Linked DNA regions of Homo sapiens: region 2 is linked to region 1. Evidence: fine-mapped expression QTL. A gene starts in region 1. The other region holds a variant in brackets. All regions are shown on one strand. Distances are between the middles of the regions. Region 1 holds the start of CCM2 (CCM2 scaffold protein). Region 2 overlaps CCM2 (CCM2 scaffold protein).

The links. PIP is the estimated chance that this variant, and not a neighbour inherited with it, causes the effect.
Region 2: its variant is fine-mapped to the expression of CCM2 in whole blood (TOPMed, PIP above 0.99).

Annotation. Positions count from the first base shown.
Region 1 is chr7:44,992,027-45,008,252 of GRCh38, reverse strand. CCM2 (CCM2 scaffold protein) reads right to left here and starts at 8,052. Exons shown (of 10, transcript NM_031443.4): 1 at 7,890-8,052. The coding sequence starts at 7,919. LOC102723334 (a long non-coding RNA gene) reads left to right here and starts at 8,245. Exons shown (of 4, transcript XR_428139.4): 1 at 8,245-8,535; 2 at 8,880-8,973; 3 at 13,109-13,224; 4 at 15,404-16,226. RefSeq lists silencers at 7,576-8,105, 8,736-8,785 and enhancers at 12,974-13,023, 13,044-13,103, 13,144-13,193, 13,274-13,323.
Region 2 is chr7:45,019,244-45,035,469 of GRCh38, reverse strand. All of the region lies in intron 1 of CCM2 (CCM2 scaffold protein), which reads right to left. Among named protein-coding and RNA genes, the nearest start is that of CCM2, 27 kb to the right of the region's middle. RefSeq lists enhancers at 7,192-7,261, 7,864-7,913 and a silencer at 8,304-8,373. The variant C/G (reference allele first, on the strand shown) is at 7,802.

The DNA of each region.
Region 1 (16,226 bases):
TTCTTGCCAACATGGGGAAACCCCATCTCTACCAAAAATAAAAAAATTAGCCGGGCATGGGAACACGCACCTATAGTCCCAGCTACTTGGGAGGCTGAGGCAGAATTGCTTGAACCCAGGAGGCGGAGCCTGCAGTGAGCTGAGGTCATGCAACTGCACTCCAGCCTGGGCAGCAGAGCAAGACTCCACCTCAAAAAAAAAAAAAAAAAAAAATGTACCCCACCACATAAACCAACAAGGGAAACATTTCAGTTTCCACACCTGACCAGAGAGCTCATGGTGACAACACACAGGAAGCAAATTTGATTTTTTGAAAAAAACCTGTATGGAATTTTAAACTATAGAATAGACATAAAGATTTAAATAAAGGCTTCTCTCTTTTTTTTCTCCAAGGTACAAAAACAACATGTGAAATGGTTATCTCCCACTCCTCAACTAGGTTTCCCTTAAGAACAGTGACACCACGGGTTTAGGCTGACCAGTCTTCTCACTTTCAGAAAAGTGAAAAACCTCCTTGGGTTACAAGACACACCATCATCCTAAGCTGCAAACAAAAGCCCAAATTCCATGTTCCTATTATGCTTATTAAAGGGGATCACTTTCATTGCACATACATCTAATGCCTATGGTCAAATGCCCTAATTCTTAACATAATCCAAGCAAAAAATTGTTACTGTTTGGGCACACTTGGGAGAAAAAAAAAGGTCACATTTTTGGCACAGACACAAGGCTAAGGAAAAAAGTTCTTATTTTTACAAAACAAACAAACAAAAAATCCTAATGGTTCCATTGACAAATCCAAATGTAAACTCCCTCATACCTGTAGAATCATTTGAAGAGCAGTTGCTGTTCTTGATTGAAAGATAAAAAAGCCAAGGAGTGCGAAGCGCGCTAACAAAGATCCACTGTTCACAAGGACACAGCGATGCATGCAGAGGACATGGCTGGGCTCACTGCTCCCGCCACAGATCCCAGAGCACAAAGCCTGTCCCAGATGAAATGAATGACATCCCTGACTGTGCCAGCTCCCAAAACACCATACATGTTCTCCCAACCACAAAGAGTGTGCTGTGATTTATGGTTTACATACAGCACAGTGAGGGTTGTCCTGTCACTCTGAGCAGCTCGTCCGTGGCCATGTTGACAGTGTAGACTTGGTCCTCAGAACTCACCCCAGAGACCCTAAGGCAGCCAGCAGATGAGGCCAGAATGACCAGCAACATAAGGCTTGTTACTCTTCTGTCTTGATGAGTTACTACTGCACTTCTATCTACAAACTGAACTCTAGGGTTTGCTTCAAAATCACCTGGTGCATTAGCCTTCTTGGGCTGCCAGGACTAAGTATTATAGACTTGAGTGGCTTCAATAATAGAAACTTATTCTCTTAGAGTCTAGATGCTGAAAGTCCAAGATCAAGGTAAATTTAGCAGGGTGGTTTCTCCTGAGGTCTCTCCTTGGCTTGCAGATGGCTGCCTTCTCCATGAGTCCTCCAATGATCATTCCTCTCTGTGTCCTAATAACTTCCTATAAGGACATCCATCAGATTGGATTAGGGCCCACACAATTACCTCATTTTACCTCAATCACCTCCTTAAAGACTCCATCTTCAGGCCAGGCATGGTGGCTCAAGCCTATAATCCCAGCACTTTGGGAGGCCGAGGTGGGTGGATCACGGAGTCAGGAGATTGAGACCATCCTGGCTAATACGGTGAAACCCCATCTCTACCAAAAATACAAAAAAATTAGCCAGGTGTGGTGGCGGGCACCTGTAGTCCTAGCTACTCAGGAGGCCGAGGCAGGAGAATGGCGGGAACCTGGGAGGCGGAGCTTGCAGCGAGCCAAGATTGCACCACTGCACTCCAGCCTGGGTGACAGAGCAACAAGACTCCGTCTAAAATAAAAACAAATAAAAAAAAAAAGACTCCATCTTCAAATACAGTCACATCCTGAGGTCCTGGAAGTAGGGGCTTCAGCACATGACTCTGAGGGGACACTATTCGGCCCACACAGGCAGGAAGCAGGAATGAGGAGAAGGTGCACATGAAACTGACTGCCCACACATGGGCACAGGGGACTTCGTTACATGATTTTTTTTCTTTACATTTGCTTTTGAAGTTTTCATAAAGGTGTTCCTGATCACTCTTACCAAAGCCTGCTCCCACCATCCATCCCCGGGCTCCACTTCCTGCTCTGCAGCCACAGGCTCACCGTACACATTTCAGTCTCCAGCATCTGTGTCTGACACCATTGGTGCTAATAAACAATAGTTTAATGGACAAGTGAATGCATGATGTGGAACACCTCCAGTGGCTTCAAGTGCATACAGAACCAACACCCAACTTCCCAGCCCAAGGACTTCCCAGGACTGGGGGGTCCTCTCCACCTCATCTCTGCTTCTGAACTGCAGGACACAGTCCCGGTCTCAACCTGGCTGGAAGTGGCTGCTGCCTGCCCCATGTCTCTTCTGACATCCTAGGTCTGCCTTTAGTCTCTAATTTTAGGTGTAAGTGACCTACTTTCCAAAGTGCAATGTCCCTAACCCTCTTCTCAGTGGGCTAAGCACATAATAGGCAAGGCATGACCAAGTTATCTCACTAAAAACTTGTATCGCCACCACGTAAACCAACAATAGAGGGTGATTTAAATGCTCAATAGTTAGGTTTATAGGACTTAATCATGACCATTTACTTACACTGCAAAGTGACAACAAGGAGGGGGCACTGCTGACGGAAATGAAAAAACTGGAAGATCAAGAGTAAGCGCCCCAGTGGGGCAGACTGCAGACGCCCTTCTCGTCTGCAGGGAAGCCCTTCACTGCAATAATATTGCTAAGAGAAACGTTTTGCTTTACACTATCTTCCTCTGAAAGGATGCTCAGAGCAGCCCTGGAAGGTTCTGATGTGCTTTCTGAATCTAAATTATGACAGAATCTGACAATATGTTGAAAATTAACAAATACATACTATGTAAATGGTAACTCTTCAAGACAGAAAAGTAACCAGCCTTATGTTGCCGATCATTCTGGCCTCACCTACTGGCTGCCTTAGGTTCTCTGCTGAGCACCTCCTGCCTGGTTCTCCAGCCTCCTGACCCTGAGTTACCAAGTTGCCATCCAAGAATCACTGCAATAGCTACCCAAGAGGAAAAATAAAACAAAATATAGCAGCCCCAATTCACCTTCTGAACCCAAGTATGGCTTGTGACAGTTATAGAATCGGTTTAGTGGGTCATGACCATGAGCCTTTTTTTTTTTTTTGAGACGGAGTCTTACTCTTGTCGCCCAGGCTGGAGCGCAATGGCACATTCTCAGCTCACTGCAACCTCCATCTCCCGAGTTCAAGCAATTCTCCTGCCTCAGCCTCACAAGTAGCTAGGATTACAGGCCCCACCACCACGCTCAGCTAATTTTTGTATTTTTAGTAGAGATGGGGTTTCACCATGGCTGGTCTCAGACTCCTGACAGGTGATCCACCCACCTCAGCCTCCCAAAGTGCTGGGATTACCAGTGTGAGCCACCGCACCTGGCCAACCACCAGTTGTAATAGAAAGAAAAAAAAATAGAATTAAAAAATCAGAGCGTTTAAGTGTGGTTCCTTTAAACTTTCACTTCGGTTATACAGACACACACATTTATGTCTGCATCAGGTCAGCATGGAGAAGGTATGGCTTCCTGGTGCCTGCAGTGACCAAATTTTAAAAGGTACTGGTCCAATCCAAGCTTTCAGTTCCTCACAGACACTGGTCCAGCAGTGACTACAGCAGCTGATAGTTCAGGGCCTGTAACCTAGAGGATCTTTTCCCCTCCACTTTTTATTATGGAAATTCTCAAAAATACATAAAAGTAGACAGAACAATATATAACCATTACCAAAGCATTCAGCTATCCCCTTTGTTTCTTCTATTTTGAGTAAAGCAAATCCCAGAAATCATATTATTTCACCTACAAATATCTCAGAATACATGCCTATCAGATCAGAACTTAATTATCATACCCAACAAAATTAATAATTCCTTATTTATTATTTAATATCTAGTCCTACATTTCTAGGGAACTTTATAACCTTTTTTTTCTCTTTTTCTTCTTGAGACAGGGTCTTGCTGTCACTCAGGTGGTGGCACAATCACACTCACTGCAGCCTCGACCTCCAGGGCTCAAGCGATCTTCCCTTCTCAGCATCCCAAGTAGCTGGAACTACAGGCATGCACCACCATGCTCAGCTAATTTTCTTATTTTTTGTAGAGATAGGGTCTCACTACATTGTCCAGGCTGATCTCAAACTCCTAGGCTCAAGTGATCCTCCCACCTCAGTCTCCCAAAGTGCTGGGATTACAGGCGTAGCCACTACACTCAACCTATAACCTTTTTCTACCTTAAACAATGCAAATAAACTAGATGAATGTAAAAATATTTAACTTTGATCAGTGTGAAATCATAGCCACCTGGTGGGGCAACCGAAGACCAGAGGCAGCAGAGAAGCTGAGACCCACAAGGTTAAGGCCACAAGATGGTTTTTTTTTTTTTTTGGAGATGGAGTCTTGCCCTGTTGCCCAGGCTGGAGTACAGTGGCATGATCTCAGCTCACTGCAACCTCCACCTCCCGGGTTCAAGAGATTCTCCTGCCTCAGCCTCCTAACTGGGATTATAGGCACATGCCACCACGCCCAGCTAATTTTGTATTTTTAGTAGAGACGGGGTTTCACCATGCTGGCCAGGCTGGTCTCAAACTCCTGGTGTCAAGTGATCCGCCTGCTTCGGCCTCCCAAAGTGTTAGGATTACCTACACCCAACCCTGACAAGACAGCTTTTTTGGGCTGTGATCTGAGTATAAAAATCCACACAACCCAACTTAAGTGCATCCAAGTTTCTAATAAAAAGGAATTACTGTCAGGTGCGGTGGCTCAGCCACCCAGCACCTTGGGAGGCCAAGGTGGGTGGATCACCTGAGATCCGGAGTTTGAGACTAGCCTGACCAACATGGAGAAACCCCGTCTCTACTAAAAATACAAAAATTAGCTGGGCATGATGGCACACGCCTGTAATCCCAGCTACTCGGGAGGCTGAGGCAAGAGAATCACCTGAACCCGGGAGGCGGAGGTTGCAGTGAGCTGAGATCGTGCCATTGCACTCCAGCCTGGGCAACAAGAGCGAAACTCTATCTCAAAAAAAAAGGAATTACATAGTGCCACAATGCACAGAACATGAGTCCATACCGTAGGTAGGAGCCTTATTCTCCAAACCCCAAAACAGAACTTGTAGGCTAAAAAGTAGACACTCTGTAGACATCAGGACAGAAGAGCAGCCCCAAGTGGTCACTTCTACTCCCCAGGCCCCACACCTTTAGTGGCCAGAGGACTTTTCTGTCAATGCACTCATTCCTTCAGATGGACCCATGAGTGATCCATCTCCCCATCAGCTCCTGGGGGCCACAAGCTCTTCCTGTATCCCCATCACCCAGTGAGTTTCATGGGACACAAGAGGGGCTCAACAGACATTTGTTAAACGAACCATGGCCCACTTGAGGAAACCCAGGTGTACAGTCATCATCACCACATGTGCTGAGGTGACTTGAGAAAGGGCAGTGATACACTGGGGCCAAGTTTCCGTGAGACTCACTTTGGTCCATAGGTTCTCTGCCAACTCACTGATTCCTGTGTCCTGAGGAAAATGGGCCGAGGTAAAAAAAAGCCTGAATCACTGCTTGGCAGACACCAAGACAAGTGTCTGAGATTAAAAAGAAAAAAAAAAAAAAGGCCCACCTGAGCTCAGGTGATCCTCCTGCCTCAGCCTCCCAAGTAGCTGAGACTATAGGCGAGCGCTGCCGCGCCTGGCTAATTTCTGTATTTTTTGTATAGATGGGGTTTTGCCATGTTGCCCAGGCTGGTCTCGAACTCCTGAGCTAAAGTGATCGAGCCTTGGCCTCCCAAAGTGCTGGATTACAGGCGTAGCTACCATACCCAGCCTAATTCTGCATTTTTTGAAGAAGCTAACTTAGAAGAATTTAAGCGTCCAAACTGTACCTTCATAAAACTATTGTCAGCACTTCTGCTACTTATGTCTGAATTTGTGTATAAGTTTAGAGCAATGCAATTTACCTTAATGAGAATGATTTAACCACCGAAGTTATTAAACTGGAGGTGATCTCACATTGAATGTGGTAGCTGAGCAGGAAGGTTCTGCCAGCTTGCAACTGGCAGAGTACACGAGGTAGTGTTAAGTCATGACCTGGAGAAGAATCCATGCCCCAAAGCTCCTTGTCTGGCTTGTCTACAGGAAACAAGCTAAGACAAGTGGCAGAATACAGAAAAAACACAAAACCCCTGGCTTAAGCAACTACATAACAACTGATTATCTCCTCTAGTGAGAAAATGAAATTAATAATTAACCTGTTTATGCCTAAATTTTTTCATTACCCAACTGGAAAATTCTTGATAATTTTACTGTTTTTTCACTTGTACCCCAAAAACAGTCTTACTGCTTCTCTCTCTCTCTCCCTATTTGCTGGGTGTTTCATGTTTCTACCAAAGCTGATAGACAGCTCTAGAAAAAAAAATCACTCAATTCCATCCTTGCCTATCACACACAGGTAGATGGGCCAGGTACTCCTGTAAGCGGTGCACAATGAGGTCATCAGTCCTTAGCGCGCTCTTGGATCCCGGCATTCCACAGAGCACATGGCTCACTTTCCGCAAAGCTCAGCATCATCCACACTCGGGCCTGATGGTCCCTACTAAGCAGCCACCGGGTTAGCACCTCTCCTTTCCAGCTAACTCCTTTTACACTGCTTGGCTCCTCCCTCTTCTGTGCGCAGCACGCATCTCTAATCTAACACCTGCAGGCTGAATCACTATCTTGAGCTATTTTCCAGACTTAAAACATCTTTGTAGATAACCGCAAATTATACTGCACCTAAATTAGACATGCATGGTGCTAACATGAAACAATGAGTTGAGAAAGTAGAGAACCAGCACCACAGGACTCCCTGAAGGCCACCTGGCTACATTCTATTTCAAACAGGACTTTTAAATGGGGCACTCTGTCAAACAAGGTGGTGAGTAGCTGTCAATTAAAGGACACTTCCCTGCAGAGTTCAGGGTAGTAAAATCATAGTTAGGAATTATCGAGGTCTGCTTTAAACTTGTGGATAAAAGTGCGCACACACACATCAAAAAGAAAATGATAGCCAAGACGTGAAGATTATAAAGCATTTATTTGAAAAAGATACATTTTATTAAAATCCATTTTCCACTTTAATGGTAGTTCAATCCACATCGTTTTTCCAGTCTTAAAATGTTTCTTTATCGACTACTATAACCCTTTACTGTAATTAAAGCCACATTTTGTAAAACTACATAAACTGGGGTTTGACTATGAACTATGTCCTAAATCCCACTGCCAAATGTAGCTAGCGTCACTAAAATCAATCAATGGTTTTAGGTCTGAGTGATAGTGGACGAGTGAGCTGGCCATAAGGTGAAGGCCACCCTTGCTTTTACTGGATATCCAAAAACGAAGTCCAGTGAGCAGCAAACGTCTCCACGTTAACCACACAGCCCACTAGCTCCAGTTCCAGCCCTGGACAGCTTTCTGGCCCCTCGCCGGGCCCACTTCCTCTGCAGCCCCAGGTCCCGACGCGCAGGGAAGGCCGTCTGGGGCCGAGGTCGGGGCGAGCCGCTGCCCGGGCCAGAGGAAAGGCGCGGCGCTTCCTGCCCGCCCGGCCGCGAAAGCCCACCTGACCATTGTCCGGGGTCTCGCCCTGCCCCGCCCCGCCCCGCCAGCTGGCCCACTGCCCCCCCCCCCGGGCCCCAAGGAACACCCGCCCACCCCACCCTGGCCCCTCAACCCAGCCGCCCGCCGACCACAGCAGTAGGACGCCCCCGCGCACGCTCACCTTCTTGCCCTTCTTGCCCTCCTCTTCCATATCGCCGCGTGCGGCTCCCGCGGCCCGCCCGGCCCGCCCCGGGAGCCCCGCCGCCAGCAGCCGCTACATGCTCGACCCGGGCCCGCCGCCCCCGCGCTCCCGGCGCCGCCCGCCAGCCGGGCCCGAAGTCTCCGCCCCGGCCGCGCCCCACACCCGCACTTCCGGGCCCGAGCCCCCTCCGCCCCGCCCAGGCCCCACCTTCCCCAGCGCAGGCCCCGCCCACGGTTGTCGCTCATCCTCACTTTCAGGCCCAAGGGAATCCGACCCGCAGCGATCAGACCCCGCCCCTTCAGGGAGAACACGGCCCGTTGGCCCCGCTCACGGCGAGAGCACCGCCCACAGGCTGAAGATCCTGCCCCTTCAGGACGGCCGAGAACGCGCCTGCCTTGCACCACCCCCACCCCGCCCCGCGTCCTTCAGGAGAGCCGGAAACGCTCCTACCCCTACTTCGCTTCTGCACGGCCGCGAGAACGCACCTGTCCAGCCCCCTGTTCGCTCCGCCCACTCAGCGCGCGCGGGAGCGCGCGCGGGAGCAGCTCCAACTTTTTCAATTTGCCGCCATCTTTACGGCGGCCGACTTCCCAGCCTGCCTCGCGTCCAGGGAGGCGGAGCTCAGGTCTCTGAAAAGGGGACGGGGGGCGGGGGACGGGGGACGGGGGCCGGCGGGAGGGGACGCGGCCGGCAGATGGCGAAGGAGGGGCGCGAGGAGGCGGCCACTGTTGAGGGGCGGGGCGTCCCGCCGAGAGTCTGGGTGCGGTGCGGTTTTCTTTTTTCTTGTGTCCCACTTTATTCCCTGAGCCACAGGGAATCCGTTTTCTAGTACTTCTCTGTTATAAAGTCTGCCTGCCTTAGACAAACACATTTGGAAAATAGAAGTGCAACCACAAGGATGTGCAGACCCTATCAGAATAAAATCGTAGAACCTTACCAGTCATCCGGTATAATTTCCACATTTTCCAGATGAGGTCCGGGGAATGAGGTGATTCGCCCAAAAGCACACTACAAATTGGAGTCACCAGCAGGTCTGCTATTTTGCCACTAAACCAATCTGCCGGTAAGAACTTTGTAGCACAGCTAGAATGTAAACTGTGTTTTTTTGGTGGTTTTTTTTTTTTTTTGAGACGGAGCCTTGCTCTGTCGCCCAGGCTGGAGTGCCAGTGGCGTGGATCTCGGCTCACTGCAAGCTCTGCCTCGCGGGTTCACGCCGTTCTCCTGCCTCAGCCTCCCGAGTAGCTGGGACTACAGGCGCCAGCCACCACACCTGGCTAATTTTTGTATTTTTAGTAGAGACGGGGTTTCACCATGGTCTGGATCTCCTGACCTGGTGATCCGCCCACCTCGGCCTCCCAAAGTGCTGGGATTACAGGCGTGAGCCACCGCGCCCGGCCTAATAATTCTTTATATTAAACTTTTCTTTACTGTGTTTCTGTCTCCTGACTGGGCCTATGTTATACTGATATTCAAAAGAAATACTTGGTCTCTAGACCTCTCCAAAGGCATAAGTATTCCATTCTCTGCAAGATAAAGCAGAGATAGTGGAAACACCCTTTCAATCTGCCTTCTGCAATAATCCAGCTTGCCACATTTACACACGCAAATGATGTAGCGCATCTGGTTGTCATTATTTTCCCACCATTCACAGAACAAAGGCCTGATATTTAAAGTCTTCCACCGTCTTCCACAAATGCATATTTATCACTCCATAATACAGTAAACAACACTACTAAAACTTCTCTTAGCCTAACTCTGGATGTGCTGACTTCCTCAGGCTGTTCTTATCCATCAGAATACCTTTGCCCTGTCTTTGCATACACAGGTTCATGCTTCAAGCAAAAGTCCACTGGCTAATGATCAGATGGTGATAACTGGGAATAAAGACAATAAAATGAGAAAAGCAAAAAGGCTGTTAGCTTGCTATAACAAGGGAGTCAGCCACCATCATTTGTATTTGGATGAGACTCAATGTCAGGCAGAGGAGTGGGTAAGCTTTATAGTGAAAAAAGGGAAGCCTCCAGGGATGTCCTCATTTGAGGCTGTTGGCCTGGGGAAGCAAGGGGCAGGGCATCCCAAGTGATTGGTTAGGGGCACATATTTGTCTTTCTCTGGTTGCTCCTAAGCTGGAAGCAGGACCGAAAACTAGGAAAGCTGCCAGTTTTTTTTTAATTGACAAATAATTTTTTGTTTCTTTTGTATTTTTAGAGATAAAGTCTCACTCTGTCCTTCAGGTTAGAGTGCAGTGATGCAGTCATGGCTCACTGAAGCTTCAACCTCCTGGGCTCAAGCAATCCTCCCATCTCAGCCTCCCAAGTAGCTGGGACTACAAGGACGCATCACCAAGCCTGGCTAATTTTAGTATATTTTTGTTGAGACAAGGTCACACTATGTTGCCCAGGCTGGTCTCAAACTCCTAGGCTCAAGCAATCCTCCCTCCTCAGCCTCCCAAAGTGCTGGGATTATAGGCATGAGCCATCGCACCCAGCTAACACATAATAATTGTACATATTTATGAGGTACATGTGATTTGTGTGTGTGTGTGAGGCAGAGTCTCACTCTGTCACCCAGGCTGGAGTGCAGTGGCATGATTTCAGCTCACTGCAACCTCTGCCTCCCAGGTTCAAGCAATTCTCCTGCCTCAGCTTCCCAAGTAGCTGGGATTACAGGCATGCACCACCACACCAGGCTAATTTTTTTTTTTTTTTTTTTTTTGAGACAGAGTCTTACTCTGTATTGCCCAGGCTGTAGTGCAGTGGTGCAATCTCAGCTCACTGCAACATCCACCCCCCAGTTTCAAGCGATTCTCCTGCCTCCGGAGTAGCTGGAATTACAGGTGCCCACTACCACGCCCGGCTAATTTCTGTATTTTTAGTAGAGACAGGGTTTCACCATGTTGCCCAGGCTGGTCTCGAACTCCTGGCCTCATGTGATCTGTCCACCTTAGCCTCCCAAAGTGCTGAGATTACAGGCATGAGCCACTGCACCCGGCCAAAATACATGTGATATTTTGATACATGCATATGATGTGTAATAATAAAATCAGGGTATTTAGGATATTCGTCACCTGAACACTTATTTCTTTGTGTTGGAGACATTTCAGATCTCTCCTAGCTATTCTGAAATATACAGTACATTGTTATTAACTATAGTCATCTTACTCTGCTATGGAACATTAGAATTTAGGCTGGGTGTGGTGGCTCAAACCCGTAATCCGAGCACTTGGAGAGGCTAAGCTGGGAAGATCACGTGAACCCAGGAATTGGAGACCAGCCTGGGCAATATAGTGAGATCCTTCTTCTACAAAAAATACAAAAATTAGCTGGGCATAGTGGTGTGCACCTGTGGTCCCAGCTACTCAGGGGCCTGAAGTGGGGTCCTTGAGCCCAGGAGGTCGAGGCTGCAGTGAGCTGTCATTGCACCACTGCACTCCAGCCTGGGCAACAAGCCAGATCTGTCTCACACACACACACACACACACACACACACACACACCCATGAGAAATTATTGCTTCTATTTAGCTGTATGTTTGTACACGCTAACCAACCTCTCTTCAGCCCCCTACTTTCCCCCAACACACACCCTTCCCAGCCTCTGGTGGCTATCATCCCAGTCTCTATCTCAATGAGATGAATATTTGTTTAGCTCCCACATATGAGTGAGTAAATGCAATACTTGTCTTTGTTTTTTTGTTTAAAAAAAAATTTACAGGGATGAGGTCACTATGTTGCCCAGGCTGGTCTCCAACTCCTAGGTTCAAGCCATCCTCCCACTTCAGCCTCCCAAGTATTGGGATTACAGGCTTACATAGTGACCTCTAGCTCTATTTATGTTGCTGCAAATGACATTTTCATTTTTTTTTCCTATGGCCAAATAGTATTCTATTGTGTATATATACTAATTTTTTTTGACATGAGGTCTCACTCTGTCACCCAGGCTGGAGTGCAGTGGTATGATCACTGCTCACTACAGCCTTGATCTCATAGACTCAAGAGATCCTCCCACCTCAGCCTCCCCAGTAGCTGGAACCACAGGTGTCTGCTATCACACCTGGCTAATTTTTTTACTTTTTGTAGAGATGAGGTCTCTATGTTGCCCAGGCTGCTCTCAAATTCCTGGGCTCAAGCAATCCTCGCGCCTCAGCCTCCCAAAGTGCTGGGATTATAGGCTTGAGTCACCACGCTCAACCTTATTTTTTGTCTTTTTTTTTTTTTTAGAGACAGGGCTTCCCTCTGTTACCCAGGCTGGAGTGCAGTGGCATGATCTTAGCTCACCGCAGCTTGAGCTAAGGAGCTGGGCTCCTGGGCTCAATGGATCCTCCCACCTCAGCCTCCTAAGTAGCTGGGACTGCAGGTGCGCCAACACCCTTATTTTTTGCCTTTTTGATAATAACCATTCTAAATGGGGTGAAATGGTATCTCATTGTGGTTTTGATTTGCATTTCCCTGATGACTCATGATATTGAGTATTTTTTTATATGTACCTATTTGTTTTTTGTACATCTTCTTTTGAGAAATGTCTACTCAGATTCTTCGCCCACTTTTTAATGGATTATTTGTGGTTTTTTGCTGTCAAGTTGTTTGAGTTCCTTGTATATTCTGGATATTAGTCCCTTGCCGCATGAATAGTTTGCAAATATTTTCTCCCATTCTAAAGGTTGTCTTTTCACTCAGTTGATTGTTTCCATTGCTGTGCAGAAGCTTTTTAGTTTCGCTTAATATAGTCCCATTTGTCTATTTTTGGTTTTGTTGCCTATGCTTTTGAAATTTTAGCCATAAAATCTTTGCCTCGTTCAATGTCTTGAAGCATTTCCCCTATGTTTTCTTCTAGTAGTTTTGTAGTTTCAGGTCTTATGTTTAAGTCTTTAATCCATTTTGAGTTGATTTTTGTATCTGGTGAGAGATAGGGTGCCAGTTATTAATTAAGTCCTAGGCTTTGGGGGCTGTTAGAAAAGTTACTCCTGGATTGTCACTAGAGATAACACCTGGCTTCCTGCAAGTATGACTTACAGCAGGCTTGTTTCCTGGGCTGGTTGCTGTAGATAACGAATTGGTTTCCTGAGGAGGTTTCTGCAGGTTGTCAGTCAGAGTTCTAGTTGTACAAATGGTCCAGCCATTGTCTATTTGTATATTCAGTCTCTCGTAACAGACACCAATGAGACAATTATAACATAAAACAATCTTTTCTTTCTCTCCAGGTCACACCTTGGCTGTAAAGTGTCCTAACAGCCACCTACTTATGATTACTGCTTTCTTACCAATAACCTCCCCAGCCTGTTGTGTGGCTCCTACATCTTGAACAAAAGCGACCAAGGTACCCAATTACTAAACTGCCCACACTTCATGAAAGCAACTTTATAGCCATGATACTCACTTCCCCTTGTCCCCTCTTCAGAATTACTCAGGGCCAGCCCAAACCTTACAAAGTCCCCTTCCTATTCCCTCGTAATGAGAAGCAGCCCTTCTTCCTCTGGGGTGCTCTCCCTGGTCATGGTAGGTTAATAAACCCAAATCTTTTTGCCCAACTGATTTTTGTATTTTAGTAGAGACGGGGTTTCACCATGTTGGCCAGGATGGTTTTGATCTCTTGACCTCGTGATCTGCCTGCTTCGGCCTCCCAGAGTGCTGGGGTTACAGGTGTGAGCCACCGCGCCTGGCTTAAACCCAAGTCTTTTAGACTGCTGGTGAATTTGGCTGTTGAGCTTTGTGACCCAGCTCAATAATCACATCTTCCACTAAATTTCTGGATGCAATTTTTCCCTCCTCCAGTTTCCAGATAACTGTATCTGTATGTCTGTGATGCTAGAGTTAACCAGGTTTAGGACATTTCCTCTACTAGAATAAGCTCCTTTGAAGGTACGGACTATGTGGGATTCCTCCTTGTATCTGAAATAAACTCTAATAAGGGAAATTATGTACACTGAGCCAGACTGAGGTGGAGGGGCACTGGCAACATTACCTGAACATAGTTTCTCATAGATGCTTCCCAGCTAGGCCCTGTTCAGGTAATGTTTCCCTGGTTTTAAGAAAACCCCTAAACACTGAAAATTTACACTTAATTGGCCTATTCAAAGACAGTGTTCCCAGATTTGCATTTTTGCTAGATTTCAGCCAATTTTTTTTTTTTTTTTGAGACAGGGTCTCACTCTGTCACCCAGGCTAGAATGCAGTGGAACCATCTCAACTCACTGCACCCTCAACCTCCCAGGCTCCAGCTATCCTCCCACCTCAGTCTCCCAAGTAGCTGGGACTACAGATGCACACCACCACACTGGCTAATTTTTGTATTTTTTGTAGAGACAGGGTTTCACCATGTTGCCCAGGCTGGTCTTGAACGCATGGACTCATGCAATCCATCTGTCTTGGCCTCCCAAAGTGCTGGGATTACAGGCATGAGCCACTGTGCCCAGCCTTCCAGCCAATTTTTTTTCTTTTTTGAGACAGAGTCTTGCTCTATTGCCCAGGCTGGAGTGCAGTGGCATGATCTTGGCTCACCGCAACCTCCACCTCCTGGGTTCAAGTGACTCCTGCCTCAGCCTCCCGAGTAGCTAGGATTACAGGCATGCACCACCACACCCAGCCAATTTTTGTATTTTTAGTAGAGACAGGGTTTCACCATCACCATGTTGGCCAGGTTGGTCTCAAACTCCTGACCTCAGGTGATCCAGCAGCCTCGGCCTCCCAGAGTGTCGGGATCACAGGTGTGAGCCACTGCAGCCAGCCAACCAGCCAATTTTTTTAAGTGAATCTTTTCACTGGTCTCGAAACTGACTGCAGTTGTTTTCTTATTGTGCCTCTCAGCCATCTGTCCTTGAGTCTATCAGTTGTCTCCCTCATATGAGAACTGGCTTGCAAATAACTAACTAGATGTCTCTGATTTCTGTTTGTTTGTTTTGAGACAGAGTCTCGCTCTGTGGCCCAGGCTGGAGTGCAGTAGCACAATCTTGGCTCACTGCAACCTCTGCCTCCTGGGTTCAAGCGATTCTTCTGCCTCAGCCTCCCGAGTAGCTGGGACTACAGGCGTGTGCCACCACGCCCTGCTAATTTTTGTATTTTTAGTAGAGACAGGGTTTCATCATATTGGCCTGGCTGGTCTCGAACTCCTGACCTCATTCATGATCCACCCGCCTTGGCATCCCAAAGTGTTGGGATTACAGGCATGAACCACCGCGCCTGGCCTTCTCTGAGTTATTCTTTGACGTATGACATGCAACACTTTGACTGTTGTGCACATGATAAAACCATATAGACTTCATTAGTGAAGGAAAGACACTTCAGAGTTGATTAGAGTGAACTATCAGTGAATTTTAATATCCAGTTTCCAGGCCTATAAATCATGAAGGACCAAATCAACTCTGGATCAGAATGACCCCTCAGAAATACAGCCACACTGTGTGGCCCCCAACGGAAGCAACCTTGCAAGTTCCATTTTGACATCTCATTAGCTAACACTGTTTATTCTTCTAGAGCCAAATTGCTAATTTTCTTTTCAGGCATACATCTGTAGGAGACCAGAATATGCCACCCCAAAATATGCCTCCTTGGCCTAAGGATTATTCTGAGCTAGTAATTTTGAGAAACAGAAGCTATGAAAACAGCATAAGCTACCCCTTTGAAAGAGAAATTCACCCCGGCCACCACCCCGTCTGGGAAGTGAGGAGCGTCTCTGCCCAGCCGCCCCGTCTGAGAAGTGAGGAGCCCCTCCGCCCGGCAGCCGCCCCGTCTGGGAAGTGAGGAGCCCCTCTGCCCGGCCGCCAGGCCGTCTGGGAGGTGTGCCCAACAGCTCATTGAGAACGGGCCATGATGACGATGGCGGTTTTGTCGAGTAGAAAGTGGGGAAATGTGGGGAAAGGAAGGAGAGATCAGATTGTTGCTGTGTCTGTGTGGAGAGAAGTAGACACAGGAGACTCCATTTTGTTATGTACTAAGAAAAATTCTTCTGCCTTGGGATGCTGTTAATCTATAACCTTACCCTCAGCCCCATGCTCTCTGAAACATGTGCTGTGTCCACTCAGGGTTAAATGGATTAAGGGCGGTGCAAGATGTGCTTTGTTAAACAGATGCTTGAAGGCAGCATGCTCGTTAAGAGTCATCACCACTCCCTAATCTCAAGTACCCAGGGACACAAACACCGGAAGGCCGCAGGGTCCTCTGCCTAGGAAAACCAGAGACCCTTGTTCACATGTTTATCTGCTGACCTTCCCTCCACTATTGTCCTATGACCCTGCCAAATCCCCCTCTCTGAGAAACACCCAAGAATGATCAATAAATACTAAAAAAAAAAAAAGAGAAACTCACAGTCTTAAAAGAAATCGC
Region 2 (16,226 bases), 27 kb before region 1:
GACCTGGAATAGGCCCCCTCCCAGGTCCCATTCTCTGCTGCTCAGTACATCCGGTGGTAGGGGAGAGCATGGAGTAAGGATGACTAAAGGTCCTCAGAGTTGGTAACAGTTGGAGCCAGATGATGTATACAGTAGCTTTGTTAACTTTTCTCTGTATTTTTTTAATATTTGAATTTTTAAATATTTTTTGAAAATGATGAATATATTTTCTGCTTCCTGCTGATTACACTTAAACTGAGGCAAAATATAAAAGCATAAAAAATTAAGATCACCAACATCCTTACAAGATGATCCGCTCTAAGACGAACCACAGAGGGGACAGAAAGTGCTCCCAGGCTGGGTGCAGCGGCTCACGCCTATAATCCCAACACTTTTGGGAGGCCGAGGTGGGTAGATTGTTGAGCTCAGGGATTCAAGACCAGCCCGGCAACCTGGTGGGACCCCATCTCTACAAAAACTACAAAAATTAGCCAGGTGTGGTGGTTCACGCATGTAGTACCAGCTACTTGGGAGGCTGAGGCAGGAGGTTGCTTGAGCCCGGTAGGTCAAGGCTGCGGTAAGCTGTGATCATGCCATTGCACTCCAGCCTGGGCAACAGAGTGAGACCTTGTCTCAAGAAAAATAAAAACTTTTTAAAAATGCTTCCAGAAGCTGGGTGCAGTGGCTCACACCTGTAATCCCAGCACTTTGGGAGGGTGAGGCAGGCAGATCACTTGAGGTCAGGAGTTAAGAGACCAGCCTGGCCAAGATGGTGAAACTCCGTCTCTACTAAAAATAACAAAAATTAGCTGGGTGTGGTGGCGGGCGCCTGTAATCCCAGCTACTTGGGAGGCTGAGGCAGGAGAATTGCTTGAACCGGGGAAGCGGAGGTTGCAGTGAGCCGAGATTGTGCTATTGCACCCCAGCCTGGCCAACAAGAGTGAAACTCCATCTCAAAAAAAAAAAAAAAAAAAAAAAGGCCAGGCATGGTGGCACATGCTTATAATCCCAGCACTTTGGGAGGCCAAGACTGGCAAATCACTTGAGGTCAAGAGTTTGAGACCAGCCTGGCCAAGATGGTGAAACCCCGTCACTACTTAAAATACCAAAAATTAGCTGGGTGTAGTGGCAGATGCCTGTAATCCCAGCTACTCAGGAGGCTGAGAAAGGAGAATCGCTTGAATCCGGGAGGCAGAGGTTGCAGTGAGCTGAGATCACACCATTGCACTCCAGCCTGGGCAACAAGAGAGAGACTCCGTCTCAAAACAAAAAAAAAAAAAAGTGCTTCCATAAGAGCTTGCTGGGACTGGCCTGGGCTCAGAAAGCATGTGGCCTTGTGCTGCCCAGGCCCTGGCTCTATGACAGCAGTGAAGACAGGATGTCCCTAAGGCACTTTCGGGCTTCATTCTCCTTAATCCCTGACAAGCTTTGAGCCCCAGGACAAGTTTGGACATGACAGGTAGTTTGCAGTGCGGGGTTCTCATGGGAGAATGGTGAGAAATGGTCACCTATGATTTGTCAGCCAAGAAATCATGGTAAACTGTAAGTTAAAAACGGCCCTCAAAATTTAGTGATGCAATTTTAGCCATGCAAAAAATCATGTTTCTCTAGCCTCACTAAAAACACACCAGGCTTTGCTTGCCTGTGATTTCCTCTCTTCTGGCACTCTCAAGTGACAGATGGCACATGAATTACTTTTCAAATGTGTATGCTTGACCACTCACTTATTCTCCCAGGCCCTATGATGTGCAAGACCCTGGCCTGGAGGTTATGGAAATACAGAGGCATTTGGCCCATGAGCCCAGCTTTTCGGAAGCTTGCATCTCCACAGACATGGATAATCTCACATCAGCCACAGGAAAATGGCTGTCCCTAAACCATTTCTGCCTGCTAGCCCCCAAAGCTCATTCCTCCTAAATGATAACTAGCTGTGTCATGGACAGTGACTGAGCTCTGAATCTGACAGTGTGGGCAAGCAGCCTGGCTCCATTTGTTGGCTCTTCTGAAAGCTGCCTGTTAGCCAAACTAGTTACTAATCTACCTATGGGAGCAACAGGAAACCAACTCTGAGACAGGAGATTTGCCAAGATCAACCTCTAACCAAGAAGCCCACACCAAATCAACAGGTCCCACAAACCACATGCAACCTACACTGTTATTTTAATGTTGATGTACAGGTCATAAAATTATAGTCTCCACACAGAATTACAGTCTGCACTGGGAAGGACTCTGGCGCTCCCCCGTCCTACAATCCCACCCCTAAAGAGAGACCCTCTGCAGTTAGGCAGTGAGAAATAGTAGGAACTCTTGCAGGGCAAGGAAACCAGGACGGCCATCTGTAGATGCCTCTTATTGCCCAAGCATCACATCAATTCTTCCCTACATCGAGCTCAGCTCTTTCCTCCTCTGGCCTTTGCTCTTTTTTTTTTTTTTTTTTTTTTTTTTTGAGACGGAGTTTTGCTCTTGTCACCAAGGCTGGATGGAGTGCAATGGCATAATCTTGGTTCACTTAACTTCTGCCTCCCCGGTTCAAGCAATTCTCCTGCCTCAGCCTCTGGAGTAGCTGGGATTACAGGCACCCACCACCATGCCTGGCTAATTTTAGTATTTTTAGTAGAGATGGGGTTTCAACATGTTGGCCAGGCTGGTCTCAAACTCCCAGCCTCAGGTGATCCACCAGCCTCAGCCTCCCAAAGTGCTGGAATTACAGGCATGAGCCATTAGGCCTGGCTGCCCTTGGCTCTTACCCAGCAGCCAGCATGGAGCTTGCACAGACTGGACAGCAATAAACGCTGGTACTGACTCTTGATGGAACGCTTGGACCAGGCTAGGCATCTGGGGAGGCCCTTTGGTTAGAGGTGACACAGCCCCTGCCCTCAACGATGTCACAGTCAAGCCGAAGTAGTAAGACCAGAGTAAAGTAACTGAAATTAAATCCACAGTAAAAACAGTCAATCAATGCTGAAGACACACAGGATGCTCCAAAGGTACACTTAGGGCTCAGCCACCCTGTTCTTAAAGCTGCTGTTCTGAGCAGCAAGAGACAAGGAGAGGAATGAACAGGAGATACAACCTTCTGACTGCTCACAGACTAGCAGAGGAGGGCGACCCCGGAACGCCAAAGATAGGGCATGCCAAGGCGCTTCAGAGGAACCTGCCCCTTCTACCTGGGCCTCCAAATCACGAACATTTTAACAAGCAGATTCTGTGGACTACTTGGAGGCAGGCGTCTCTCTGGCCCTAGTCCTTAGTCTTCAATAGCAGCTACCCTAAGTTTCTTTTTTTAATGTCTCAAATAATTTTAATTGATGGGTAAGCCTTCCTAGAAAGTGGAATATTAACACTATTAAGTAAAGAAATGCATCTTTGCACATCTGCTGCAGCCTCCCTCTGCCACTCCTACCCATTCAGCACGGAATGCAGGGTAGCTGCTGTTCTCGCTGAGGATGATGGGGCTTTTCAGAGGTAATGTTTGCTCAGCTCTCAGCTGCAGGGGGTGGTAGGAGGGACAGCCGGTGCTGGGGAAGAGCTCTCTGCTATTCCAGATACAAAACTGAACAAGAAGCCACCTCAGATTTTTGGAAAAGAAGTTGCTTTTGAACACAAAATTTAAGCTGATGGCTGGGCGCAGTGGCTCACACCTGTAATCCCAACACTTTGGGAGGCCAAGATGGGAGGATCACTAGAGTCAGGACTTCAAGACCAGCCTGGGCAACAGGGTGAGACCTCATCTTTTAAAAAAAATACAAAAATTAGAACATAAAAATTAGCAGGACATGGTGGCACACACCTGTAGTCACAGCTACTTGGGAGGCTGAAGTGGGAGGATCACTTGAGCCTAGGAAGTCAAGGCTGCAGTGAGCTGTGATCACACCACTGCACTCCAGCCTGGGTGACAGAGCAAGACCATCTCAAAACAAATAATAATTATTAATTAAAAAGAAAAAAGCTGAGCGTGGTGGCATACGTCTGTAGTCCTAGCTACCTGAAAGACTGGGGGGAGAGAATCACTTGAACCCAGGAGCTCAAAGCTGCAGTGGGCTATGACTGCCCGCTGCACTCCAGCCTAAGTGACTAAGCAAGGCCCTCTTTTTTTTTTTTTTTTTTTTGACCTGGAGTCTCACTATACAGCCCAGGCTGGAGTACAGTGGTGTGATCTCGGCTCACTGCAACCTCCACCTCCCGGGCTCAAGCGATTCTCCTGCCTCAGCCTCCCGAGTATCTGGGATTACAGGTGTGCACCACCACACCTGGCTAATTTTTGTATTTTTATAGAGATGGGGTTTCACCATGTTGGCCAGGCTGGTCTCAAACTCCTGACCTCAAGTGATCTACCCACCTCGGCCTCCCAAAGTGCTGGGATTACAGGTGTAAGCCACTGCACCTGGGCAAGGCCCTGTTCTCTTTAAATCTAAAAAAAGAAAGAAAATAAATTTAAAGGAAAGTTCTAGTTAAAAAATAAATCGAGGCCAGGTGCAATGACTCACGCCTGTAATCACACCACTTTGGGAGGCTAAGGCAGGTGGATCACCTGAGGTCAGATGTTCAAGACCACCCTGGCCAACATGGTGAAACCCCGTCTCTACTAAAAATACAAAAATTAGCCGGGCATGGTGGTGCACACCTGTAGTCCCAGCTACTCGGGAGGCTGAGGCAGGAGAATTGCTTGAACCTGGGAGGTAGCAGTTGCAGTAAGCCAAGATCACGCCACTGCACTCCAGCCTGGGTGACAGAGTGAGACTCCGTCTCAAGAAAAAAATAAATAAAATAAATTGAGGGCAGGCACAGTGGCTCACACCTGTAATTCCAACACTTTGGGAGGCCAAAGCAAGAGGATCGCTTGAGGCCAGGAGTTCAAGACCAGCCTGGACAACATAGCGAGACCTGTCTCTAAAAAATATTAAAAATTAGCCTGTAGTTCCAGGCACTCAGGAGGCTGAGGTGGGAGGATCACTTGAGCTTGGGAGGTTGAGGCTGCAGTGAGTTGTGATCACACCACTGCACCCAGCCTAGGAAACAGAGTGAGACCCTGTCTGGAAGGAACGAGGGAAATAATTAAATGGTTTAGCATATTTTTAATGTACAGAATCAGGATTCCAGTAAACCATCATGGGTTCTTTAACTCACTAGAATGTACTATAGATGGACACATAGAATTTAAAAGGTGGGATTAGCCCAGGCAACCATTCTTCATTCAACATGTATTTGATTGAGTATGCCTGTTCATCACCACTAAATGATCTTGTCACCTTTGAACCTCAGAGACCAAAGGACCAATTCAGTCCCCAGAAGGAAACCAGGCTAAGTGCTATTTCTCTTCCATGAGTGGAGTCCCAGCACCAAAGTGAGGTGTGGAGTCTATCCCAGCCTAAGTCTCTCCTGAAGAAACTGAGGCTGTGAGGGTCGAAGGGACCTGCCAGAGTCCACAGTACGGAGCCAGGAGGAGGGAACACAGGGCTCTGAGTCACCATGCAGCGCTGTGCAAAGACATCCATATGGAATATATGCCACCTCAGATAACTATACAGAACTTTCTAAACTCACTCTGGAAGATGCCTAGATCCTTACAAATTCTTACAAAGTTAACGTCTTAAGCTTAAAACAACTCTTAAAGTTGGAAACCTAAAATGTACTTCTGAGTTAAAAAACTAAAACTAAATCTGGCCTACTAGGGCTTACCTAGTGAGAATGCCCTCCTCACACAAAGCCAAGGCTCAGGCTCTGGGCAAGGCTGGCCCTCAGATGCCAACTGCGGGTCTTGAGTTTTGTTAAATCTGAAGCTCAACATTATCAGCTCACTTGGGTGAACAGGATCTGGAGTAACTGGATCTGCTCAACAAATTCTCAGAAACTAACTTATAAGTCAGGGCACCTGTTTATTAATTTACAAGGAGAAATGAATCCACTAAAAGAACCAGCAAAAGCAGACTCATGAAACAGTGGCCTCTACTTGGGGACCAAAGTAAATAGTATGGCTATACCTTCTAGCTGCATTCTCCATGCAAAACATTGAGCTCAGTATTACTCTGGAGAAAGTGCTAAAAAGTCTATGAAGGAAGAAAGAGAAGAACACTTAGTCACACTGAGCAGTACCCAGCATGTCTCTGCTACAGGGTTCAGGCATTTTCATTTGCGCAAATTATTTAACCCTTATGAATAAACTACAAGGTGGGTTTTATCTAATAAAACAAAACCGCCTCTGAACAAAGATGTTTAAAGTATTATAAAAAGGCCTAGGTATCCTTAAGGCCAACATTCAGTACATCTCATGAGTATTCACTATGCGCCAGACACTGGGGCTGTAGAAGCCACCGTCCCTGCCCCCAGGGAACCCCCAGTCTAAAGAGGGAGACAGACAAACCGCAACTGCACAGCCACATGAGGGCCCAGCAGGAATGAGGGAAAATGACTGGAAGAGGCACCAAACTCAGTGCCTGGGTCTGAGAAGACAGTGGAACCTGGAGCGATGATTCTGTCCAGCTGGACAGTGATAGGCTATAGTCCCAGAGAGACACCTGCCATCCTCATAAATCACACTGCCTAAGGTGCACATCCGAGGCACTACGACAAATCCCCTCCTACAAGCTCCATGACAAAGAACTCCTCTGTGGACACCCACATTGCACCCCTGCCTATGTGAATTTCCACAAACTTCCAGCACTCCCTGCAGTGTCAGTTGACAGATTAGCTTTTTTTTTTTTTAAGTGCTTTGGTGCCTACCAATGGAAAAAGGACCTTTCCTCGGTGCTGGAGAGGTCTAAATGATAAGTATGACACAGCCGGTGTGCACCCGCATCTCAGGACACGGCTAATTTCTTTCTTTTCTTTTTTTTTGAGCCGGAGTTTCACTCTGTCACCCAGGCTGGAGTGCAGTGGCGCAATCTCGGCTGACTGCAACCTCCACCTCCCGGGTTCAAGTGATTCTCCTGCCTCAGCCTCCCAAATAGCTGGGATTACAGGTGCGTGCCGCCACACCCGGCAATTTTTTTGTATTTTTAGTATAGACGGGGTTTCACCATGTTAGTCAGAATGGTCTTGATCTCCTGACCTCCTGATCCACCCACCTCCACCTCCCAAAGTGCTAGGATTACAGGCATAAGCCACTGTACCCGGCTGACAGAGCGAATTTCAAGGGGAACCAGAGCTCTGCCCACTACCGCCTGTTTGCTTCAGTGAGAAAGGCATAGGCACCTTAGTGCCCACAGGAGGCCACACTGGCGGTGGCCAGGATCCATGCTGGTGGAGTCTCAAGCAGAACCCCACTAGTGTTGCAGGCTTCGTGGATGAAATTCCAGCTTTGGGTGCTCTCTTGCTTGGCCATCTCCCTACATCATTTTTCAACCAGGCTCTTGGGTCCCGACCACAAATCCATAGGAAAATTACTTCTCCGTGGAAGATGTAAAACCTGTGGCTTCTTCTTCCTTGAGTCAAGATGGATGAATCCAACAACCTATACTCCCCACCTGGGTGGAACGGCACTTCTCCATACACGCCCCTTGCCACAGGGTCTCAGACCAGGAAGCCAGCAAATGAACCCTCCACCCACCCCATCCTCCCAAAGCAGGGGTCATGGAGACTGGGCTACCCTAGCTCACAATGGGCAAGCCCTGGGAAGCAGCCATGAAAGCCACCCACAAGGGACTCACACCATCATCATTCTAAATGGCGCTTTCCACACTGGACTTGCACCTACCTCATTCTCCATGGAATACCCTGTGTGAAATTCTGTTTGAGGAATTTCTTTGGAGAGATTCTGGTTCCTCCTCTGCCGACAGCTACTATGCATTCTCTACTCACTTCTGAATTTGTTGAAAAATATGGC[C/G]AGATGTTAGCCCTCCCTCTGAAAAAAACATGACTGAACAGGAAGACCAGAAACCACAGCTTCCTTCTGCAAAGCCACTGAAGCTGTTTACAATTTTTTAAAAGTTTAAAAAGCAGGCAGCACCCAGAAACTGTTGGCAAAATCCAAACAGTCTGCATGCACAAAAAGACACAAAGTAAACCAGCTCATTTTCCCTACTTCCCACAGCACGCGAACCCCACAAGCAGCCTCCCTGCATTTCCAGCAGAAATTCTGCAGTCAACAGAAGGACATTAATTTCAAAGTCCACCATTCTGCACATTCAAATGCCAAAGCTAAACAAGCAGACAGAAAGCACTGTGAGGGGCTACCATTTCCTGGAGACAACAGGCCGTGCTGTTGGTGAAGACCCATGGTACCTGCCTCATACGAAGGGTGGAAACACGCGACAAGGCTGTTCCAGTTACCCCATTTGCAGTGCTTGCTCAAAGGCAGCAAGATCTTTACAGAGATAACTCCATTCCCAGGTGGGGCTTGGGCAGGGCACACCGGGCTCTACGGGTCCTCAGCCTACAAGTGCCTCTACCTGCCTCCAGGACTCATGAGTTTGAGTCAGCAGCACTTTGAAATTAAACAGCGTGCCTCTGGCCAAGCTCACTTCTTCAAGGCAAATTTCCTAATCTAGAAAAGCAGAAGTTGGATCTGTTGCTGGTGAAGGCTCTTAGAACTCTGATAATTCCAGAATGGCTTGCAAATAGGGAGGGCTACTTAATTAAATATTCTGGTTGGCTGGGTGCGGTGGCTCATGTCTGTAATCCCAGCACTTTAGAAGGCTGAGGCAGGTGGATCACCTGAGGTAAGAAGTTCGACACCAGCCTGGCCAACACGGTGAAACCCCGTCTCTACTGAAAGTAGAAAAATTAGCCGGGCGTGGTGATGGGCACCTGTTATCCCAGCTACTTGGGAGGCTGAGGCAGGAGAATCGCTTGAACCTGGGAGGCAGAGGTTCCAGTAAGAAAAGATAGCACCATTGCACTCCAGCCTGGGTAACAGAGTGAGACTCCATCTCAAAAAAAAAAAAAAAAAAAAAAATCTGGTTAGAGTGACTATATTCACAGATCAATAAATAAACATAACAATTACAATATAATTTTTTAAATATTAGGTTGAACCAAATCAAAGTGCTGATTTTCAACAGTGTTTTGGCTATAAAAATGGTACTTTCATACAATTCTATTTCATTAACCTGTAACAAATAAAGTTTAATATTTCCTGATTCCAAAAAGACTGATTGCTTCAGAATAAAATTTAGTGCTTCAATTATTATTCCATATACCACAGATGTAGAAACTGTCATAAAGTTGGAAAAGCAGCATCAGAACTAGATTTGAGTCAATATCCGGTATTAACTGGACTGTCACTTTCTGTCTTTAAAAACCAGAGTAGAGTCACAATTTCAGATTGCTCCTTCCTAAAAGTTGCCTATACAGGGCAGAACCAGCTGACCCTGACCTTCAGGTAGGCTCAAAGGGAAAAAGGCAAACCAGGAGGGAGATACAGAAAGAGGTGCCACTCAGCTGAGCAGCCTCACCTCTATTTTGGCTACTGCAGGGAGGGGAAGGATTCCAGGGAAATAGACATGACTAAAAAGAAAACCCACATGCTCTGAACACTAGTCAACCCCAACCTTCCCTCACAAACACAGTGATCCCCACGGTCAGCATGAGAGAGAAAAGCCAAAGAACAAATGGGAAGAGACAGGCACAGGAACCTACATTCTAGCTAGTATACTTAGAGACACTTGAGAAGAACTGCATCCATAAAATAAGACTAGATAGCTATGAAAAAGAGAAAACGGCCGGGTGCAGTGGCTCCCGCCTGTAATCCCAGCGTTTTGGAAGGCTGAGGTGGGCAGATCACCTGAGGTTAGAAGTTTGAGACCAGACTGACCAATATGGAGAAACCCCGTCTCTACCAAAAACACAAAATTAGCTGGGCGTGATGGCGCATGCCTGTTAATCCCAGCTATTCGGGAGGCTGAAGCACGAGAATCACTTGAACCCAGGAGGCGGAGGTTGCGGTGAGGTGAGATCACGCCATTGCACTCCAGCCTGGGCAACAAGAGTGAAACTCCATCTCAAAAAAAAAAAAAAAAGAAAAAGAGAGAACAGAGAACAAGAAATATATCTTAGAAATTACAAATATGACTGCCAAAATAAAAAATTCGTAGAATAATAACAAGGACATAGCGGAGAGCCCAAAGAATGATGTGAAGGAGAACTGCGGGGTTGGCCAATGCCTGCCTGCTGCTGATGGCCACAGCTGCAAATGTTTTACAGATGAACATTTGCCACCAATTCGATAAAGGGAATCACCAACTTTGAACCCTGATTAAGCAAAATGTTAGCCCCCAAAAAGAATTCCATTCTCAGTAGTAGAACCATATTACAAAAAATTGTACTCAATTATTATACCTTGAATTTCATCAATAAAAAAATTTACGAAAATTTGCTTTCTCTCTTATATAAGTACCTACTTAATGGCCTCAATTTTGCCCCCTGGCCCACACAGCCTGAAATATTTACTGTCTGGTCCTTTACATGAAGTTTGCCAACCCTGTCTTAGAACATAAAGTGAAAAGGTAAAAAGTTTAACATGAGAAAAATTAAAGGCCACAGAAGCTGGGTCCATCGAGTCTAACAGTTTCCTAAGAGGAGAATAAGAGCAGGCAGAATCAAAGAGGGACACAAATATCAGAAGACAACAACGATGAACTCAATTTTATGGACAGAAAAAGCACAGTAACAAGTAGGCTGAATGTAAGAGACAAACCCTCAACATTTAGACTCATCTTCACAAAACTGCAGAATTTCAAGAGAATCTTAGGTTTCCAATAAGAAAATGCAAAAAAAAGTACCTGTAAAAGCAGTAAGACTCAGATCAGCATCAGATGTATCCTGATAAATGGGAATATGGTAATCCCTTTAAAATTCTGTGTGGAAATTAATTTAAATCTGGAAGTTAATTTAAAACCAAACTGTCAATCAAGGTGCAAAATAGTTATTTTCACACCTGCAGTGCCTTGGGATCTTTACACTCTAAAAACCCCCTTTTGAAAAACATACTAGAGGATCTACTCCCAGCAAAACGAGGATCATCCAAGAGAGAAAAAGATGTGGACTCCAAGAAACAGTGGAACCAACCCAGGAAGCAGAGAAAAGAAATCCCAGGGTGACAATGACAGTGTTCAGCAAGCAAACAAAGGAAAATCTGTAAGATTCCATTATGTAAACTAAGAGCCTAGAAGTTCTTGACGATAAAAACATGTTTCTTGGGCCTTGACTAAGGGCTGGCCTGGACATGCAGAGATGAAACTCCACAATGCCTACAGGTAATCATTTAATGTTTGACTGACTGCTGAATGGTGATGCCAGAAGTTATTATCAGCTGAAGAGTCTTTCCTGAACATTATAATCAGCTGAAGAGACTTTGCTGAACTGGCTACTCAGTAGAAATCCAAAAAGTCCACACTTTAGGTGTAAGGAAAACACCCAGAACTAAATTCAAAACTGATACAGAGGCCGGGTGCGGTGGCTCATGCCTGTAATCCCAGCACTTTGGGAGGCCAAGGCAGGAGGATCACCTGATGTCGGGAATTCGAGACCAGCCTGACCAGCATGGAGAAACCCCCAACTCTACTAAAAATACAAAATTAGCAGGGCGTGGTGGCACATGTCTGTAACCCCAGCTACTACGGAGACTGAGGCAGGAGGATCACTTGAACCTGGGAGGCAGAGGTTGCAGTGAGCCAAGATTGTGCCATTGCACTCCAGCCTGGGCAACAAGAGCAAAACTCTGTCTCATAAAAAAAAAAAAAAAAAAAAAAAAAAAAAAAAAAAAAACTGATACAGAGCTATCAAAATAATGACTAAACAAAGATGCACACGACAAAAAAAAAAAAAAAAAGATTTCCCAGTAATCTCACTGCCTACCATAATAAAACTGAATCTCATTCACAATAACAAGGCATTCTCTAGAAAAAGGCTGAGTAAACTCTACCACACAGGCAAGCCACCTGTTTTTGTAAATAAAGTGGGGTTTTCTTGTGTTTTGTTGTTGTTTTTGTTAGTTTTGTTTTTTGAGACGGAGTCTCACTCTGTCATCCAGGCTGGAGTCCAGTGGCACGATCTCAGCTCACTGCAACCTCCACCTCCCAAGTTCAAGCGATTCTCCCGCCTCAGGCTTCCAAGTAACTGGGATTACAGACGCGCAACACCACACCCGGCTAATTTTTGTATTTTTAGTAGAGATGGGGCTTCGCCATGTTGGCCAGGCTGGTCTCGAACTCCTGACCTCAGGTGATCCACCCTCCTCAGCCTCCCAAAGTGCTGGGATTACAGGTGTGAGCCACTGCACCCAGCCGTAAATAAAGTTTTATTAGAACATTTAAAAAAAGAAGTCTGGGCCGGGCATGGTTCTCTCACTTATAAGTGGGAGCTAAACTATGGCTACACAAAGGCACACAGAGTGATATAATGGACACTGGAGACTTAGAAAGGGAGAAAGTGGGAGGGAGGTGAGAGATGAAAAATTACCTACTGGATACAATGTACGCTTTTTGGGTGATGGGTACACTAAAAGCCCAGACTTGCAGGGTGAGGTGGCTCATGCCTGTAATCCCAGCACTTTGGGAGGCCGAGGCTGGTGGATCACTTGAGCTCAGGAGTTCGAGACCAACCTGGTCAACATGGTGAAACCCCGTCTCTACTAAAAATATAAAAATTAGCCAGGCGTGGTGGTGGGCACCTGTAATCCCAGCTACTCGAGAGGCTGAGGTAGGAGAATCGCTTGAGGTCGGGAGGCAGAGGTTGCAGTGAGCCGAGATCGCACCACTGCACTCCAGCCTGGCCAACAGAATGAGACTCCGTCTCAAAAAATAAAATAAAAGCCAGACTTCATCACTATACAATTCACCCATGTAACCAAAAACCACTTGTACCCCAAAAGCTACTGAAATTTTTTAAAATTTAATGTTTCTTTTGAAAGAAAAAAGAAAAGCAATTCATCAGAAACTCTAAAGAAAAGGCCAGGCACGGTGGCTCATGCCTGTAATCCCAGCACTTTGGGAGGCCGAGGCGGGCGGATGACGAGGTCAGGAGATGGAGACCATCCTGGCTAACACGGTGAAACCCCGTCTCTACTAAAAATACAAAAAATTAGCCGGGCACGGTGGTGGGCGCCTGTAGTCCCAGCTACTCGGGAGGCTGAGACAGGAGAATGGCGTGAACCCGGGAGGCGGAGTTTGCAGTGAACCGAGATCGCACCACTGCACTCCACTCTAGCCTGGGCAACAGAGCAAGACTCCATCTCAAAAAAAAAAAAAAAAAAAAAAAAAAAAAGCTGGTCCAAAAAAAAATAATGATCCCCACATGAAACATACTAAAATGTGGCCTAATTCTGAACGCCAACCACAGCACAGATTAATAATCTCCATTTGTTCTCATTGCTTCACATTCACCTTCCAAAGTACAGATTTTGTGGCAAAAAGCTACATCCCCTCACTTACTGTAACCACACTACTTGACATACAATTCAGACTACAATAAAGTCCTAGGTGTGCTCCACTGCTATTGGACTGTCATTGCTTCTAGGTGTTTTCCATGCAGATAGCTAAGAAATACGTGACAGCTCTAATTCAAAATGAATCTAGCAAAATTTTTCCTTAAGTTCTTTAACTTTATACTTGTATCCTTTAAATTCTTACATGAAAAAAAGGTTGCTACCTACATGGTTGATTTCACATGCCACTAATGAATCATAACCCACAGTGTGCAAAACTGTGAGAAGACAGCTTCAACAGCTGTCACAGCCACGCAAGGCAACAGCAGGAACAATGACTCCACCTTCCTTCCCTCTCTCATCCCTTCCCCTCTCCTCCCCTCCTCCTCCTCCCTGTCTCATCTTCCCCTGCCCCATTCTCCTCCTCAGCTCCTCCTCCTACTCCCCTGCCTCATCTCACTCACTCTGCAAACTGCACTTCCAAAGGCATACCCAGGGGACAGGGAGATGGTGCTTGATGCATAGTTTTATTTATTTATTATTTATTTTATTTTATTTTTTTTTTTTGAGAAAGAGCCTCGCTCTGTCGCCCAGATTGGAGTGCAGTGGCGCGATCTCAGCTCACTGCAACTCTACCTTCCGGGTTCAAGCAATTCTCCCTGTCTCAGCCTCCCGAGTAGCTGGGATTACAGGCATGTGTCACCATGCCTGGCTAATTTTTGTATTTTTAGTAGAGTCGGGGGTTTTACCATGTTGGCCAGGCTGGTCTTGAACTCCTGACCTCAGGTGATCCGCCCGCCTCGGCCTCCCAAAGTGCTGAGATTACAGGCGTGAGCCACCGTGCCAGCCTATTTATTATTTTTTTTATTTTTTAGAGACAGGGTCTTGCTCTATTACCCAGGCTGCAGTGCAGTGGCACAATCATGGCTCACTGCATTCTCTAACTCCTAGGCTCAAGCCATCCTCCCACCTCAGCCTCATGAGTAGGCTGGGACTACAGGCATGTCGCCACACCTGGCTTTGGTGCAACAGCTTTAAATCCACCTGACCTCTGCCCTTCTGACACAGCACTCGATATTCTCGACCTCATGAGCACTAAGACCACCCTCAGACAGTGAGGGAGATTCAGGCAGGCAGTGACAGCTCCCCAGAAAGCTCTTTACACAGTGGGCACTAAGCAAGTGTTTGAAATAAATACCAAGGTAATAAGACTGTATTATTACTGCTAACACAGAAAAGCATACACAAACAGGAAAGCAACGTGAAAGACTAATAACAGTTGTTTCTAGTGGGTGTGATTTTTTTCATATAATATATTTTGCTACTTTCTTCTGAGATACAAATGTATTTTTTAGTAAGAAAACTTAACAAGTTCATTTTGGAAAATACTCAAAATTTTTAGCAAATACCACTTTCACCTAATAAAAACTGTTCTCTTGAGAGGTGGGTAAAGAAAAAAAGAATAAACCTTGGTTCTACCATACAAAACAATTTGTTAACATCTACTAAAATTACAAATGCACTTATGTTTCCCAGCAAGTGCATTTTCGGGAATTAATCCTACAGATGCATTACATACATGACAGGTTAGAAAATTAATTGCTTCATTATTTTTTAAGCAAAATGACAACCTAAAAGTCCATAGGAGGGCTGCTGTTTAAATACAGTAGCCCACAGATAAAAATGCCATTCCACCCTAAAGAAGAATAAAGAAACTATATATCTATAATGAAAGAGCTCCAAAACACACTGTCAAGAAAAAATAAACCCAAAGAAGTTCTTATTCCCTTAAGAGAGAAGTAGACTGTATCAAAATAACTTTCTCACAGACCGAGATTATGAACTCTAGATAAAATGTGAAAAACAATCTTCTAAAGACACTGGAGACAAACAAGAAATAAAAAAGAAGCTTGGAATTTATATGACCCTTGAAAGAAGGGAACATCACTGGGCAAGATCCACTTTTATATTGCTTTACTCCTGAGAGTATGCCCCAGTCTCAGAGGAGTGGAGCAGAGAAAAAAAAGCTGCAATTTTATTGGCCTGACAGGTTAAAGGAGGATTTGAGACTGCTAAAGAAGCTGGAAATTGAGAGGGAAATATAGGAAAGGAGGAACCCACTAAAAAAGGAACCCAAAGTCTGAGTATAAGGTCCCCTCAAATCTTTGGCTGAACCCTGAACTGCGTAAGCGGAGGTGAGACTCCCACAAGCCCAGAAAGGACACGATAGCTTGAAGGTTGAAGGAGCAAGCTGATGGCTGGGTGCGGGAGCTCATGCCTATAATCCCAGCACTTTGGGCGGCCAAGGCAGGAAGATCACTTGAGTTCAGGAGTTTGAAACCAGCCTGGGCAACATAGTGAGACCCCATTTCTACAAAAATAAAAATTAGCCAGATAGTGCATGCCTGTAGTCCTACCTACTTGGGAGGCTAAGGTAGGAGAATTGCTTGAGCCCAGAAGTTTAAGGTCACAGTAAACTATGATCACACCATTGCACTCTAACCTGGGTAACAGAGCAAGATCCGTCTCAAAAAAAAAGCTGAGATTTTAGCTCTCCCTAGCTGCAGGGTAGATAAGAGTTTGGAGTCCAAGTCCTGCCAAGTTAAAGGGGCTTAATCAGTACCTTAAACACTTGAGACTATCCATTTGAAACCCCACAAAGGCCACATCTTAGGAGTAAAACATACATTCCAGGACTAAGAAATTTACCCTAAGAGTAAGGACAAAGATCAAAACTGATCTACCAAACCAAAGTATAAAACCCAGCCAGGTGCGGTGGCTCATTCCTGTAATCCCAGGAGGCGGAAGCAGGAGGATGGCTTGAGGCCAGGAGTTCAAGACCAGCCTGAGCAACATACTGAGATTCCATCTATATTTAAAAAACTTT